Regions from separate parts of the Homo sapiens genome. Here all the other regions are linked to region 3. Evidence: fine-mapped expression QTL. A gene starts in region 3. Each other region holds a variant in brackets. All regions are shown on one strand. Distances are between the middles of the regions.

Region 1 (5,573 bases), 53 kb before region 3:
CAGGATGAAATTGGACTCTTACCTTGCAGCATCTAAAAAAATTAACCTGAAATGGATAAATGACCTAAATACAAGAGATAAAGTTATAAAAATCTTGGAAGAAAATATAGAAACAAATTTTTATGACCTTGGATTAGGAAATGCTTTTTTTTTTTTTTTTTTCCTGGACAGGGTCTTGCTCTGTCACGCAGGCTAGAGTGCAGTGGTACAATCAGCACTCAAAGCAGCCTTGACCTTCTGGACTCAATTGATTCTCTCACCTCAGCCTCCTGAGGAGCTGGGACCACAGGCCCACACTGCTACACTCGGCTAATTAATTTTTTTTTGGCCAAGGTGGGCAGATCACTTGAAGTCAGGAGTTTGAGACCAGCCTGATCAACATGGTGAAACCCCATCTCTACTAAAAATATCAAAAAGTTAGCTGGGCGTGGTGGCACATGCCTGTAGTCCCAGCTACTCGGGAAGCTGAGGCACGAGAATTGTTTGAACCCAGGAGCTGGAGGTTGCAGTGAGCTGAGATCGCACCACTGCATTCTAGTCTGGGCGACAGAGTGAGACTCTGTCTCAAAAAAAAAATAAGAAATAAATAAATAAAAGAAAAATTGTTTTGACAGATGGGGTATCTTCCTATGTTGCCCAGGCTGGTCTTGAACTCCTGGGCTCAAGCCATCCTCTTGCCTCTGCCATGTAAAGTACTGGGATTACAGGAATGAGCCTCCACGCCTGGCAGGAAATGGTTTCTTAGTTATGATATCTAAAGCACAAGCAACAGAAAAAAATAAATAAATAAAGAGAACTTTATCAAGATTAAAAACTTTTCTGTTTCAAAAGACACCATCGAGAATGTGAAAAGACAACACACAGAATGAAAGAAAATGTTGACAAATCATATATCTGGTAAGGGACTATTACGCAAAATACGTAAAAAATTCTTTTTTTTTTTTTTTTTGAGAGGGAGTCTCGCTCTGTTGCCCAGGCTGGAGTGCAGTGGCGTGATCTCAATCTCACCACAATCTCCGCCTCCCGCATTCAAGCGATTCTCCTGCCTCAGCCTCCAGAGTACCTGGGATTACAGTCGCCAGCCACCATGCCCGGCTAATTTTTGTATTTTTAGTAGAGACGGGGTTTCACCATGTTGGCCAGGCGGGTCTCAAACTCCTGACCTTGGGTGATCCACCTGCCTCAGCCTCCCAAAGTGTTGGGATTAAAGGCATGAGCTACCATGCCTAGTCCATAAAGAACTCTTAAAACTCAGTAATAGGCTGGGTGCAGTGGCTCACGCCTGTAATTCCAGCATTTTGAGAGGCCGAGATGGGGGATCACCTGAGGTCAGGAGTTCGAGACCAGTCTGGCCAACATGGTGAAACCCAGTCTCTACTAAAAATAAAAAATTAGCAGGGTGTGGTGGCGGGCACCTGTAGTCCCAGCTACTCGGGAGGTTGAGGCAGGAGAATCGCTTGAACCCGGGAGGCAGAGGTTGCAGTGAGCCAAGATCACGCCACTGCACTCCAGCCCGGGTGACAGAGTGAGATGCCATCTCAAAAACAAAACAAAACAAAACAAAAAAAACCCTCAATAATAAAAAAGTGGAGAAAACCCCAATTTAAAAAAATGGGTGGCTGGGCGCGGTGGCTCACGCCTGTAATCCCAGCACTTTGGGGGGCCAAGATGGGCAGATCACAAGGTCAGGAGATCAAGACCATCCTGGCTAACACGGTGAAACCCTGTCTTTACTAAAAATACAAAAAATTAGCCGGGTGTGGTGGCGGGCGCCTGTAGTCCCGGGAGGGACTGTTGTACTCGGGAGGCTGAGGCAGGAGAATGGCGTGAACCCGGGAGGCAGAGCTTGTAGTGAGCTGAGATAGCACCGCTGCACTCCAGCCTGGGTGACAGAATGAGACCCTGTCTCAAAAAAAAAAAAAAAAAGGCCAGGCACAGTGGCTCACGCCTGTAATCTCTGCACTTTGTCTGCACTTTGGGAGGCCGAGGCGGGCAGATCACCTGAGGTCAGGAGTTTGAGACCAGCCTATCCAACGTGGTGAAACCCCGTATCTACTAAAAATACAAACATTAGCCAGATGTGGTGGTGCGCTCCTGTAGTCCCAGCTACTGGGGAGGCTGAGGCAAGAGAATCTCTTGAACCCAGGAGGTGGAGGCTGCAGTGAGCTGAGATCACGCCATTGCACTCCAGCATGGACGACAGACCAAGATTCCGTCTCAAAAACAATAACAACAACAACAACAAAAATCCAAAACTATGATAAACCATTTCACATCTACTAGAATCAAAAAGACAGATGAGAACAAGTGTTGGCCAGGTTGTGGAGCAATTGGAACCCTCATCCATTCATTGCTGGTGGGAGTGTCAGGTGGTGCAGCTGCCAAGCCTGCTCCACAGTCTTTCCCATCTCAGCTGATGGCACCTCCATCCTCCTGTTGCTCAGGTCAGAAGTCCTGGGGTCTTCCCAACCCCTCTGTCATACATAAACTCCACACACAATGCATCAGCAAATCCCATTGACTCTACTTCGCTACTTATAAGG[T/C]AGATGCTAAGTACATCACCACTTCTGCCACCACCACCCTGGTCGGGGGTGGGTGGACTCCTGAATCCCCGCTTGCCTTGACCTCCTCTCGCTGGCCCCTGATGGTCCATTCTCCACATAACTGCCAGGGGGAAGTTGTTAGAAACCTAAGTCAGCTCCTACCATGCCTTTGCTCAAAACCCTCCAGAAGCTTCTACTGCAAGACTGCTCATCATACTCAAGGCCAACGCCCACCTCCTCACTGTGGCCTGCAGGACCCACACACGCTGGTCTCTGACTGCCACTTCGCCTCCCTTTACAACACACCTCTCACCACTCACTGCGCCAGCTACATGGGCCCCTGGCCATCCTTCAAGCACAAGTCCTTACACCCCAGGGCCTTTGCACCTGCCGCTTCTGTTGCCTTGATGTTCTTCTCCAAGTTTATCCCATGGTTCTTGCACTTCATAGAGGCCCTCCCTGAACACAACTTCTAAAATGGCCCTTGTGTCTCAATACTTCAGGTGAATGAGGTCTTCAGCACCCTCAGTGCTACCCACAGAGCTCTATATTGAGCTGACCTTCCTTTCTCCACTGGAACGTACATCTCATGTCATCAGGGACTTTGTTTTGTTCACTGACATAGTCACAGTATCTGGGCAAGTACCTGGGACACAGGATGAATCTTTACTTTACAGATGAGGAAACTGAAACTCAGACAGACAAAGCAACTCAGTGAATCAGAGGCAGAGAGAAGACCCAGATCCAGACTCCAAAGCCCATGCCTTCACCCTAGAAGGAGAAAGGAAACCACAGACCTCTCCAGTCACCCACAGCACTAAGGCTCAACTGGCCTCCTAGCATCTTAGTTCCATCTTAGTTCCATCAGAATGGAACTAAGAACCAGGGCTTAAAAACACCACCAAAGCAGCCCAGGGACACCTTGGAGATAATTCAACATGGAACCCAGAGTGCCAACCTGGGAACAGCCCTGGCCCTGGCCCCCTGCCCCCAACTGGTCCCCACTCCTATCTCCCCTGAGCCCTGCTCCCTATCTCTGCCTACTGCCCTACCAGACACCTCACTAGTCCCCTGGCTCACCTGCCCTGGAAACCAGGGCCAGGACACTGGCAAAGGCGCAGCTTTCTAAACCAGGACAGGGTATCCAGCAGGCCCTCCCATCCTATGCCCAATGCCAGCTTTGCCCCTTTAGTGGAGTCCAGTCAATTGACTGGGGAGAAAAAATGACAAATATGCAGGAGCTTAGAAAAGGGAAGCTGGCCCCTAGCCGGGGGCGGGAGAGAGACAATGGGAGCTCAGGATGAACTCCCACCAGCATGCTGGAACCAGCTCTGCTCCCGCCAACACTCACCCTAGGCCTGGCCTGGCTTACTCAGGCTTTTGGAGAAAGCCTCCTGGGGGCCTCTGACAACTCCCAAAGTCTGCTGAGAATCCCTCTTGCTATTTGAGACTCTTAAGCTGAAGTCTTTCAAAGGTCCTTTCCTGAATATACTGGGCAGCTCGATGCATTTCCTGAACTGCCAGGGCAGGCTGCTATTGGCCCTGCAGGATTATAGCTGGGTCAGCAATAGTGGATGAAAGAGAGGAGCATGGAGATTCTAAAGCCCCAAGGCCAATCCACAGAGCAAGGGCATTTCACAGACCTGGCTGGGGAAATCCTGGCGGAGCCTAGTGCTGCACTAGCTCCTAATTTGCAAACTTGGAAACAGGCTGGTCCCAGGCCACATGGGTGAAATGTAGCAGACAAAGGCCTGTGACCCTGATCTGTAGACCCTGTTCCCACCTCCAGGGTGCCTCCCTGGACTATCCAACATGGTGGGGTCTGCTTTCACAGCAAAGAGGAGGGCTTGGTCCTGGCTTCATTTCACCAAAGCATCTGGGTGTGGGAGGGACAAGCTGACCTCTTACCCCAGGGAACTTCTCCAGATCCAGGATCCTGCAAAGTCCAACTCAGCACAGGTGCTCAGAGGTGGCCAGGGAGAAAGAAAACAGACCTGAGCACAAGTCCTTCCTCCAAAATTGATGAGGGTACAAAAAAGCCTGGCTAAACTCCCAAAGGCCGCAGGCCCTGCAGGCTCCACAGACCAGGCAGGGCACAGCCCTGTACAATGTCACTGGAGAAAAAGGGGAACTTCAGTCACAGATGGACACTCCCGCATCACCCAATTCAGAACCAGGATTCTAGGCCGGGTGTGGTGGCTCATGCCTGTAATCCCAGCAATTTAAGATGCTGAGGCGGGTGGATCACCTGAGGTCAGGAGTTCAAGACCAGCCTGGCCAACATGGTGAAACCCCGTCTCTACTAAAAAAAAAAAAAAAAAAAAAAAAAACAAAACTTAGCTGGGCGTAGTGGCATATGCCTGTAGTCCCAGCTACTTGGGAAGCTGAGGCAGGAGAGTCGCTTGAACCTGGGAGGCGGAGGTTGCAGTGAGCCGAGATCACACCACTGCATTCTGCATTCTGGCATGGGCAACAGAGCAAGACTTCATCTCTCAAAAAAAAAAAAAAAAAGAAAAAAGAATCAGGATTCTTCCAGGCCCAGCTCCCCACAACCATGTGCCCTGGGGACAGGGAGCTTCTGCCACATCATCCTGCAAGACCACTGAAATCCTCACCACCCCTCTTCCTTGCTGGCCAGAACTTCCCAGGACGGTGTCAGACATTCTGGGGTCAGGTACCTGGAGGCCTCCTGAACTCCTCAGGAGCCTTACTCCTCCTAAAGAGGGTAAAAAAGTGGGGCGTGAAAATTCAGAAATGTGACCTGAAATCTTCAGGGTCTGCAAATTCTCATGGCTGATGCGGGGAGCTCCCTTTGTGAGTCACCATCAGCAGAGGGAGCTAACTTTGGCTAAGTGCTTCACAACTGTCCAGGGAATGCCACCTGGCAAGCCCAGGGCCCATCCTTGACACACATGGCAGACCAGGCTGGAGAGGGAATGCGACCACATGCTCCCAAGTGTCCAGGACAACGCCCACTCTGTGTCTCATCCTCTTCTCTGACCATATGGTTTTTGGTTGTGGTACCTTTTC
Region 2 (5,573 bases), 34 kb before region 3:
GCAATCCTCCCAACTCAGCCTCCTGAGTAAGCTAGGGCCACAGGTGCACATCACCACGCTTGGCTAATTTAAAAACATTTTTTTGTAGAGACAGGGTCTTGCTATGTTGCCCAGGCTGGTCTCAAACTCCTGGGCTCAAGTGATCCTCCCACCTCATCCTCCCCAAAACAGATGATATCACTCCTACCTTAAACCTACCTGAGAATGCATCTCATAATCCTTGCCAAGACCCTGCCAGGGCTCCGCTGTCAGCCCTGCCTCCCTCTCCAGCCTGTCTCTTCTTCCTCTTCCCCTTGCTCTGCCTTCCTGGCACTCGTCCGTTCTAGAACATGCGGAGAAGCTCTTTCCCTCTGGCAGCCTTTGTACTGGGTGTCCCCTAAGCCAGGAACTGGCTTCTTTCCATCCTTTGTCTTGGTGTAAAGGCACCTTCCTAGGGAAGCCTTCCCTGGCAGTTGCTCTGGTGCCCAGGAGTACAGTGGTATGATCAGAACTCACTGCAGCCCTGAACTCCTGGGCTTAAGCGATCCTCCTGCCTCAGCCTCCTAACTAGCTGGGACCACAGAAGCATGCCACAACACCCTGCCACTTTTAAATTTTTTTGTAGAGGTCTTGTTATGTTGCACAGCCAGGTTGGTCTCAAATTCCTGGTCTCAAGCAATCCTCCTGCCTTGGTCTCCCAAAATATTGGAATTAACAGGCATGAGCCACCATGCCCGCCTGTCCTGATTTTCTGAAAGTGCCCTGTTGGAGAACTTGCTTATTGTCTCTGCCCACTGCCCACTGCCAAGGCCAGGGCCCCCTCTGCTGTGCTCACCCCTGTCCTCCGGGAGACTAGCACTTGGCAGGCACTTAATAAATACTGCCCGCTTGGCTAAATGGAATAGTGAAACAGCCTGTGGTGTCTGAGCTTCTCCCACTCTGCAATATCCACACCCATCTAGGCCCAAATGTCATTGTGTTAAGAGACCAAGTACCTAACCCAGTCTCCCATAACCAAATTTAGCTTTTCCAAAGGACTCACACTTTCAAAGTAGTGGGCCTTGGGCTATTGTGTTCTCCAAAGAACATCTGAAATGCTCCGTAAAGCCTTTGAGCTGGGAGTTAGGGCTTCCAAGAGTAAAAACCTTCCAATTCTGTCCTGTGCCTAAGGGCTAGTTTTCATTTGCTCTCTCCTGGTGAGAGACAGGGTGAAATACAAGGACCTGGCCACTAGGTGTCGCCAAACACAAAAGCGCCAGCGTTGCTTCCTCCCCACCCCCAGCAGGTTCTCCCAGGGCCCCAGACCACCCGGTTCGAGCCGACCAGTCCTTAGCCGACGTGGGAAGCAGATCACTCCTGCTCTGGCTCTCCCTATTCCAATCGTACTATCACAAACCACACTCCAGCCCCGGGTCCCAGGGCAAGATCTATTTATTCATTCAGAGAGCCACCCCTGCCCAGGGAAGGACTGGTGTCTGGTTTTTGCCGCCGCATCCACCCAGGAGCCAGTGGTCCAGGTACACAGTAGGTGCTTCCCAGAGGAGCGTCAGTTCCATATCAAAGACTGCTTCCATCACAGACCGCCTCCATGGGGCCGGCTTTACAGAATGTTGCCCTGTCCAACAAGCCTTCTATGAACAGCTCGCACTGATAGGTGCCGCCCCGTCTTCCCGGCTGGTGCAGCCTCGCCGTCCCGGGGACACCTCACACTGGGATTCCTAGGGCTTGGGCTGCCCAGCTGTGGGCCTGCGGTGTCGTCTGCGCCTGCATTTTGGAGCCAGGCTACTCCTGCTTCAACTCACTTCCCTGCAAGAGACAGTTCTTCTCGCTACAGAGAAGACCCTTGACTTGTCTTTTCTAAAAAGCGTGGTCATGGAGAATTCTTCCAGCTCTAGTTTGAGCTGATTCCGCCCTGCTGCCTAACAAGAGGGCACACTCAGGGCTGGATCTGGAGCAGAAATGCAGCCAGGAGCACATGTTCCCACCCTTCCCATTCCAACCCAAACAGAAACACCGTGACTGGCTTACATAATTCTCTCCTCTGCAGTAAGGGTGTCAGTGTGGAGCAAACTCATAATTGGAGAGAATAAATCATAATCAACCCAAACAATACAGACATTTCAGTCATGGTGCTCAACGAGTATATTAAAGTATGTCTCTGTTTGTTGCCTATACAAGCAAACGTGCTATTATATTTTTATCACAATTCTGACAAGCATCAGATTCATTTCACTTGAGAAATCTTATTTTCCCCTGTAGGGATCAAAAACTGGTCTCCATTAAACTATGTTTAAATTACATAAACTAAAACTGCAACTAAATTAGACACACTAATTATTCATCCAGTCCTTGAACGTGAGAACCAAAAGTAATGATGGTTCTCAATTATGGTCTCTTGGCTATTCCCATAAACATTCCAGCGTCTAAAATGGGGTGGCGCTTCCACTCCAAATCCTAAGAAAATTTCTATTAGCTGCCCAAGTCAGAGGTAAGCCAAAAAAAGGAAAATGAAAAGAAACAGGCCAGGCACAGTGGCTCATGCCTGTAATCCCAGCACTTTAGGAGGCCGAGGCGGGCAGATCACCTGAGGTTAAGAGTTTGAGACTAGCCTGGCCAACATGGTGAAACCCAGTCTCTATAAAAAATACAAAAAATTAGCTGGGCGAGGTGGCAGACACCTGTAATCCCAGCTACTCGGAGACCGAGGCAGGAGAATCGCTTGGACCTGGGAGGCGGCAGTTGCCTGGAGCCAAGATCATGCCACTGCACTCCAACCTGAGCGACAGAGTGAGACTCCATTTCAAAAAACAAAAACAATAAAACAGAAAAGAAACAACAGGCAACTATTAACTATCCAAATGAATGGTGAAGGGACAGGTCCATGGTTATTTATTATGTAGTAGGCAACCACACATTCTGCAAAAAGTGGGTGCCATCCCAGAAAATGACATCTGATTGGGGCAAATACAATGAAAAGACATTAAGGTACATACCTTCAATTTAGACACAGAGACACACTCCTGCTATACATACACACACACACACACACACACACACACACACACACACACACACAGTTCAGAGCTGCCTCTCTGTTGAAGGAAGCTTGGCTGGTCAGGAAAGGATGGTGAGGAAGTGGCTCCTGACCACTGTGAAAGGTCCACACAA[C/T]GGGAGAACTGGCCTTGGCTCCACAGGCCACAACACGTTCTCAGGGAAACACCCAAGGGCATCTGTAAGAGGCACGCTCAGATGCCACACTTCTTCCCAGCCTTTGCAGGGACCTAATCTCGACCACCATGTAATCTCCAGCATTTAAGCAGTTGATCTCACTTTAGAAGAATTAGGAGGTAGTGCAAGAGGGACCTGGAGAACAAGACTGCTGAAAGTCACATGCGGCAGTTGGAGGCTGGACGGCTGTGGCTCCCTGTATGGGTCTCTGTCTGGGAAATGCAACCCATTCTAATAAAGAGCTTTGAAAGCTGGCCTCGCTTTGACAGGCACGAGTGGCCCTGAATACAAACACAGCCACCTGCACTCCTTTTTATTTTTAAACTGGAAGCTAATGCTCTTGAACATCCACATTTATCTATGTTAGAATATTCACTTATACCCAGGGCGGTCTTGCACCTGCTAGGAAGATGTCAAGTAAGCTCAGGCGAGGCCAGGGAGCAAAGCTGCTCCTTCAGACACATGAGCTGCCTCCAGCCCCTGCACTCGTCTTTTGTTTTGTCCATTTTAAAACACATTGTGATAGATTCTAATACATTTAAAAATGTACAATTTACACTTTCATGATGTTTACATTGCAAAAAAATACAATGCCATAGAATTGGTGGTTCCTAGAGCTTATATGAAATATTATCCAGAATCTGTACATGTCTTAGCCTAAAAGAAATCAGCAGCACCCTAACATTCTCCAGAAGACCCAACACATCTGGAGAAATGAGCATCATTGGGGCTCACGGTGAAAGGTAACAGATGAGCTAACTTCATGATCAGCCCTGGAGCCTGGCGTCCAATAGGACTCCTCACCCCCCACCCCACACTACTGTATGGCCACATTACAGAGTCCTTCCCCTGGGGGCCTTACCTGCTTCTGGAAATTAACTTCAGGCAAACAGGTGCTCAACTGTGAGGGGAGGGCTGTGGCTGGGCAGAAGTAGGAAGGTGCCGCCCTGCAGAAACACAGAACACAGGTTGTGGGAGGAGTCGGGAGGGCCCAGGCAGCTGCCAGGGCTGGGCCTGGAGCACACGCCCCATGCTGAGGATGCACAACCGCTGGCGGGAAGCTCATGGAGCTGGGTTCTGCCGTGGTCCAGAAATACCTGTGTGTCTGGCAAGCCCAGGAAACCTGCACCCACACCTCTGGGATAAATAAGGTGCTGAAGGCAGCTCAGCTGGCCTGGCATTTCCGGCCGAAGCAGGTCAGTCCGCTCAACACCACACCCCCTGCTCCCCTTGGCTTAGTCACCAAGTCTAATTGAGACGCTGTGTTCAGAGACACTGTGGACCAGAATGCATCACTCCAGGAAAGTTGATGGCCAAGTTCTGCACCTGCACAAGAGAATGCCCCACCTACCAAATCTAACATGACAAGTGAGGCACAGGTAGCTCAGCACCCCGCAGCCTCTGTGCTCAGTGCATGTATATGTGTCTGTGTGCTTCAGTTGTGCACCTAAACATCAACTAACACACATGCTAGAAACACACGAAAAGCACAGTCGCAGCTTGTTCACAGACCTACAGCCTAGCCACATGTCTACGTGCCCCCAATACACCTCTGGCAGGAATCTCAGAACACTGCCTTCTTTTCTTCTGCCTCCTACACAGGAGCTCATCGTTCAGGTCACCTGCACAGGTTAATGGAGCAAGAGCATGGATTGCCGAGTGGGCGGAGACACAGGAGAAGCAGGAGGCTGTGAGGGGCGCTGGGAGCCTTGCCCACCCGCTCCAGCTGCACCACCTGCTCTGCTGGGGTGCAAGACCCAGTACCTCACATCTCCAAGGCATGTATCAATCATCCCAATAAATGGTGAGGGCACAGGTCTGTGGTTATATATTATGCGGTAGACAACCACGTTCTGTAAAAGGTGCGTAATTTTGCCAGGCGCGGTGGCTCACACCTGTAATCCCAGCACTTTGGGAGGCCGAGACAGGTGGATCACAAGGTCAGGCGTTCGAGACCAGCCTGGCCAACATAGTGAAACCCTGTATCTACTAAAAATACAAAAAATTAGCTGGACGTGGTGGCGGGCGCCTGTAATCCCAGCTACTTGGGAGGCTGAGGCAGGAGAATCGGTTGAACCTGGGAGGCAGAGTTTGCAGTGAGCTGACATCGCGCCACTACACTCTAGCCTGGGGAACAGTGTGAGACTCCATCTCAAAAAAAAAAATGGGTGCTTTTACACCCACTTTTACTACCCACTCTTCTACTACCACAGGGCTCTCCGCTGTCAGCCCTGTAGTGGGGGAAAGGCTGCCAGACAACACTTTGAGAAACTGGTTCTGAGAGAGGTGCGGGGCCAATGACAGCTTGGAAACCCACTGTCTTCAATGAATTCTGAAAAGAAAGTTGCTCGATGACCCAAGGGGCT
Region 3 (5,573 bases):
TTTGCTCTGTTGCCCAGGCTGGAGTGCAGTGGCGCAATCTCGGCTCACCGCAACCTCCGCCTCCCAGGTTCAGGAAATTCTCCTGCCTCAGCCTCCCAAGTAGCTGGGACTACAGGCATGCACCACCACGCTCAGCTAATTTTTGTATTTTTAGTAGAGACAGGGTTTCACCATGTTGGTCAGGATGGTCTCGAACTCCTGACCTCGTGATCTGCCCGCCTTGGCCTCCCAAAGTGCTGGGATTACAGGCATGAACCACTGAGTCCGCCCTGATCCACAGATTCTTTTTTTTTTTTTTTTTTTTTGAGACGGAGTCTCGCTCTGTCGCCCAGACTGGAGTGCAGTGGCGTGACCTCGGCTCACTGCAAGTTCCACCTCCCGGGTTCACGCCATTCTCCTGCCTCAGCCTCTCCGAGTAGCTGGGACTACAGGTGCCCACCACCACGCCCAGCTAATTTTTTGTATTTGTAGTAGATATGGGGTTTCACCGTGGTCTCGATCTCCTAACCTCGTGATCCGCCCGCCTCGGCCTCCCAAAGTGCTGGGACTACAAGCGTGAGCCACCGCGCCCGGCCACAGATTCTTATATGTAATCTGGCCCCTCTCCATCTTCATAGCACTTACCACTACTGAAATTATTTTGTCCACTTGTTTGTTTACTCACTTATTGTCTGACTTTCCTCCTCTTTAAAATGTCATCTCTGAGGAGGGCAGAAACCGTGTCTGTCTTCACCACTAAAGCCCCAGTACTTGGAACGGTGCCTGGCACATAGTAAATGCTCACTACTGAATGAATGAATCTCCATCCCATAGAGGTGATTTGTATTTACAAGGGAGGACCACGAACTCCCCCAGCAAACCGTGAATGACACATTGGCATTTAACAGCCCGCACCTTTATTTATGATCCAAAGTCCTACTTTAAATCTGAGGAAGCTGCTGGTATCTCTGGACATTTTAATGGCACAAGAGATCAGTTATCACTTGGGGACACACTCCAGGAACTGGAGCCCAGTGGTTGTAGCAGGGAGCTAAGAGCCAAGGCTCCTGCGAACAGAACTTCAAGACAAACCATGACTTGCCTCCAGGTCCCTTACCCACACACCCTGTACCTCAATTTACCCAGCAGTTGGCCAGACATGTTCCTCTCAGTTCTGTGAGTGACAGGAGACAAAATAATTCACAGCTGGAGCATACTGAGATCCTCAGACAGGAGGTGGTGCAAGCCACACGTCTCATTATTCATAAAACTCTTGATTTGCGGCCAACACGGCCCCCGCCGCCTTCCCAGGGGCTAACCTGACAACAGGCACTGCTCAGACAAGTTCAGCTCACAAGGCAGAGGGAGGGATGGAGGGCCTAGCAGAGGCTGGGTGTCCAGACCTGAGTGTCTCGGTTACCAGGTTCCAAAAAAAGGAAGGTGGTTGGGGTGGGGTGATGAAAAGGAGGTGAGAGGTGCAGTTTGGGGCTCCAGGTGGTTAATTTTGCAGGTTCGTGCATACACGCCCGCCATCCAGGTGAGATATGTGCCCCCACCAGGTACCTTCCAGGAAGGCTCACCGGGGAGGGGTGGAATCGGGAGACGACAGTTCAATCAAACTACAGAGGGAGGAAGGGCGGCCCAGCGTTTAGTTTGGGGAAATATGGAGAGTAAGAGTCTCAGAGTGGGCGCAGGTGAGGGAAGAGGCAGGGGCCCAGAGGTCGGGAGGGCGGACGGGCGATGACAGGCACCCGGACGCGGTGAGGTGAGCAACAAGGTGGGCGGCGCGGACACCTGTGGAGGCGACCCCCGGGCGAAGAGTCAGGGAGGCGGGAGGTGGTCTGCGGCGAGAGGCGGCCAGGCCCAGACCAGGGCGCCGCGCCGCTGGGGCAGTCAGGGGTCCGAGCGGGGTCGGGGGCGCTCTCCGCGGCCCCTCCCCGGCAGACAAAGGGCTGGCCGCTCCCCCAAGCCCCGGCGCGGCGCGGCGCGGGCCCGGGCGGTGCAGGCGCGGCCCGGCCTCGGCGCTTACCTGGGCCGCCCGACCCGGCCGGGCCGGCAGGGGCAGCGGGTCCGGCGCGCAGCGCGCGGCGGCCTGTTCCGGGGCGTGCTCAGCCCGAGCAGCCGCTGCGGCGGCGGCAGTAGCAGCAGCAGGAGCGGCCGCCTCAGCCTCCGCCTCCCGCTCCGAGAGTCACCGCGGTGGGGAGGGAGGGAGGCGCCAGGCCGCCGGGGGAGGGACCGGCGGAGGGGGCGGCATCTGGCTCCGCGCGGGCTGCTGAGGCGCGGCGGCGGCAACGCCCCGGAGGGAGGCGGGCGCGTGGGGCCGGGCGCCGGGGCGGGGCCTGCGGGCGGGGCGGGGCCCGGGGCCGCGAATTGGTTAACTCAGCCTGTGGGCGGGGCTGCGCGGTGCGGGGCGGGGCCTTGTGGCGCATGTGAACGCTCATTGGGCCCTCCTGGAAGGGGGCGAGACCAGCGACATAGGGACGGGGCCATGCGGTGGGCGGGTGGAACACGGCGCCGGTAGTGAGTGGCCGAGTCCGCGCTGAGAGCAAAGGGGAGGAGCGGGCCGGGGGTGAGCAGGGAAGGCGGGTTGGGCGCGAGGAGGAGGCGGTGGCCTGGAGGAGGAGCCGGGTAAGGCTGAAGCTGGCGCTGCGGTAAAGCCACTCTGCGTGTCCCTATCTGCTCCAGGAGCACAGTGTTCCGGAAAAATAATGGCCTCTCCCACACACCGGTCTGTGTTTAAAAACGGGAGCAACAAGACGGGGCAGAATCCTTGGTGAGGCCAGTTTACCCAGAACCCCGGAAAATTCTGAAATGGACGAGGTTGCAGAACATTTAGAGGCGTGGTCTTCCTGCGTCGTTGAGCTGGGAACGTTGCTACCTCTGAGCTTGGGGCCTAACCTGGGATTAACCTAGCCCAGAGAGCCCAGGGATGGGCCTCCGTAGGTCCATTAAACTCAGAAGGTCGTGTGTACTGGTAGTGAGTGGATTTTTCGGGGGAAGGGTGCCCATGATTAAAATGTTTCTACAGAAAGTCTGGCTGTATTTGGAGAGGGTACAGGGAGAAGCAGCCCATTTTAGGTAAAATGCAAATTGCTTTTAACATCCGCCTTCCTTTTAAAGGGACCTGTATCTTTAAGTGTGGTCTCATTTTCAGCAGTTTAAATTATCAGTTACACAGTGTGACACTAACCCCAGTTCAGAAGCCCTCCTACCCTACTCCTCCCACAGCCTTTCTTTTTACACCTTTTCTGTACCATCCTCTTCCACTCCACATTTCTTCCCCTTCCCTATGCAAAAAGAATACGAAGTCCTTTTTTGTTTGTTCGTTTATAATATAATATCCACATTACTCTTTACTCATTTGGGGGGTTTTTTTGTTTTTGAGAGGGAGTCTCGCTCTGTCGCCCAGGCTCAGGTGCAGTGGCGCGATCTTGGCTCACCGCAACCTCCGCTTCCCGGGTTCAAGCGATTCTCCTGCCTCAGCCTCCTGAGTAGATGGGATTACCGGCATGCGCCCCGGCTAATTTTTGTATTTTTAGTAGAGACGGGTTTTCTCTATGTTGGCCAGGCTGGTCTCCAACTTCTGACCCCAAGTGGTCTGCCCGCCTCGGCCTCCCAAAATGCTAGGATTACAGGCCTGAGACACCGCACCCGGCCTGCTCACACTTTTTCATACTTAATAGGTCCCCGGCCGGGCGCAGTGGCTCATGCCTGTAATCTCAGCACTTTGGGAGGCCAAGGCAGACAGATCACCTGAGGTCGGGAGTTGGAGACCAGCCTGACCAACATGAAGAAACCCCGTCTCTACTAAAAATACAAAAATTAGCCGGGCGTGGTGGCGCATGCCTGTAATCCCAGCTACTCAGGAGACTGAGGCAGGAAAATCGCTTGAACCCGGGAGGCGAGGGTGCAGTGAGCCGAGATTGCGCCATTGCACTCCAGCCTGGGCAACAAGAGCGAAACTCTGTCTGAAAAAAAAAAAAAAAAAAAAATTGGTCCCCAAGTGGGTTTCTCCTACAGTGTCCCCACCTTCAGTAACTGGCACCACTCTCTACCCAGTTGCTTACACCAGACACTTAAATTGTACCGTTGACACCACTCTTTCCTTTATTCTTCATTTCCAGTCCATGTTGTTTCCAATTCTAAATGGTGTCCTTAATCTCTCCACCTCCTACCATCTCTACCCCTCTTTCCCAGTTTAACCTGCCACCAGCTATCACCTTGACTCCTGCAATAACCCTTCAAGCAGTCTCTCCTTTAGGCTCTCCTTACGCCCCCATTCACTGCCCACACAGCAACTAAAGGAAACTTCTTAAAATCTTGTCAGACCTGCGCTATTCAACGACTTCTCTTCATTTTCACGAGGAAGTTCAAAGTCCTTAGTGTGGCAACAAGGCCTTACAGGATCTGGCTACAGCCTGATCTTGAACCACTTTTGCCAACTGGGCTCTAGCCACATATGGGCCTTGTGCCTGTTCCTTGATCACAGGGAGCTCTTTTGTGCTTCAGGTCTTCTGATTGCGCTGTTCCCTTGGCCTCAATGGCTCTTTTCCGATTTCTCCCCACTTCACCTGCCTGAATACTTGGTCTACTTCCGGGAGACCTCTTAATGGATGCTAGCCCTAGTCCCACAGCATGGCTATAAACTCCAGGAGGGCAAGGACCATGCCACCAAGCACAATACCTGTATCCACAAATATTACTGCAGGAACAAACTGAATGTGTAAATACTCCATCCAGGACTTTCCCTTCCATCGGCCGGCCAGCCACTCCTACTCCCCGCCTCCGACCCCCAGGGCTATCAGCCTTCTCCTCCTTACTCTTCTCTCACTGCATTTATGGTTCGATATTTTCTCCTTTCAGCTCTGGAGAGGGCCTCCGTGTGGTCCCAGAACATATATTAGGTATCTTTTTTTTCTTTTTTTTGAGATGGGGTCTCAGTCTGTTGCCCAGGCTGGAGCACAGTGGTGCAATCTTGGCTCACTGAAACCTCCACCTCCTGGATTCAAGTGATTCTCCTGCTCAGCCTCCTGAGTAGCTGGGATTACAGGCACCCGCCACCATGCCCAGCTAATTTTTTGTATTTTTAGTAGAGACGGGGCTTCACCATGTTGGCCAGGCTGGTCTCGAACTCCTGACCTCAAGTGATCTGTTGGCCTCAGCCTCCCAAAGTGCTGGGACTACAGCTGTGAGCCACCATGCTGGCCTATTATGTATCTTTAAATAGTTGCTTTCTGGAGCAAAAAAAGAAAAAAAACACTATTTTTTTTCTCTTTTTTTTCTTTCTTTTTTTTGAGATGAAGTCTCATTGTCGCCCAGGCTAGACTGCAGTGGTGTGATCTTGGCTCACTGCAGCCTCCGCCTCCTGTGTTCAAGTGATTCTCCTGCCTCAGCCTTCCTAGTAGCTGGGATTACAGGCATGCGCCACCACGCCCAGCTAATTTTTGTATTTTTAGTAGAGACAGGGTTTCACCATATTGGCCAGGCTGGTGTCAAACTCCTGATCTCAAGTGATCCACCCGGTCTCAGCCTCCCAAAGTGCTGGGATTATAGGCGTGAGCCACCGTGCCCAGCCAAAAAACTGTTCTCTACAG

Alleles and levels. Alleles are on the strand shown, and positions count from the first base shown. SD is a standard deviation of normalised expression in the study named. Not every link is listed here.
For the expression in spleen of the gene that starts at base 2,183 in region 3, allele C in region 2 goes with a lower level than allele T (small effect, 0.33 SD a copy in GTEx).

What was found. PIP is the estimated chance that this variant, and not a neighbour inherited with it, causes the effect.
Region 1: its variant is fine-mapped to the expression of CTNNBIP1 in whole blood (INTERVAL, PIP above 0.99).
Region 2: its variant is fine-mapped to the expression of CTNNBIP1 in spleen (GTEx, PIP above 0.99).

What each region holds. Positions count from the first base shown.
Region 1 is chr1:9,855,582-9,861,154 of GRCh38, forward strand. All of the region lies in intron 5 of CTNNBIP1 (catenin beta interacting protein 1), which reads right to left. Among named protein-coding and RNA genes, the nearest start is that of CTNNBIP1-AS1, 10 kb to the left of the region's middle. RefSeq lists an enhancer at 4,062-4,956. The variant T/C (reference allele first, on the strand shown) is at 2,544.
Region 2 is chr1:9,873,836-9,879,408 of GRCh38, forward strand. It overlaps CTNNBIP1 (catenin beta interacting protein 1), which reads right to left. Exons shown (of 6, transcript NM_020248.3): 3 at 4,070-4,154. Among named protein-coding and RNA genes, the nearest start is that of CTNNBIP1-AS1, 28 kb to the left of the region's middle. RefSeq lists a silencer at 1,121-1,320. The variant C/T (reference allele first, on the strand shown) is at 3,148.
Region 3 is chr1:9,908,087-9,913,659 of GRCh38, forward strand. CTNNBIP1 (catenin beta interacting protein 1) reads right to left here and starts at 2,183. Exons shown (of 6, transcript NM_020248.3): 1 at 2,009-2,183. RefSeq lists silencers at 1,731-1,790, 1,961-2,020, 2,031-2,630 and enhancers at 2,778-3,451, 3,452-4,124.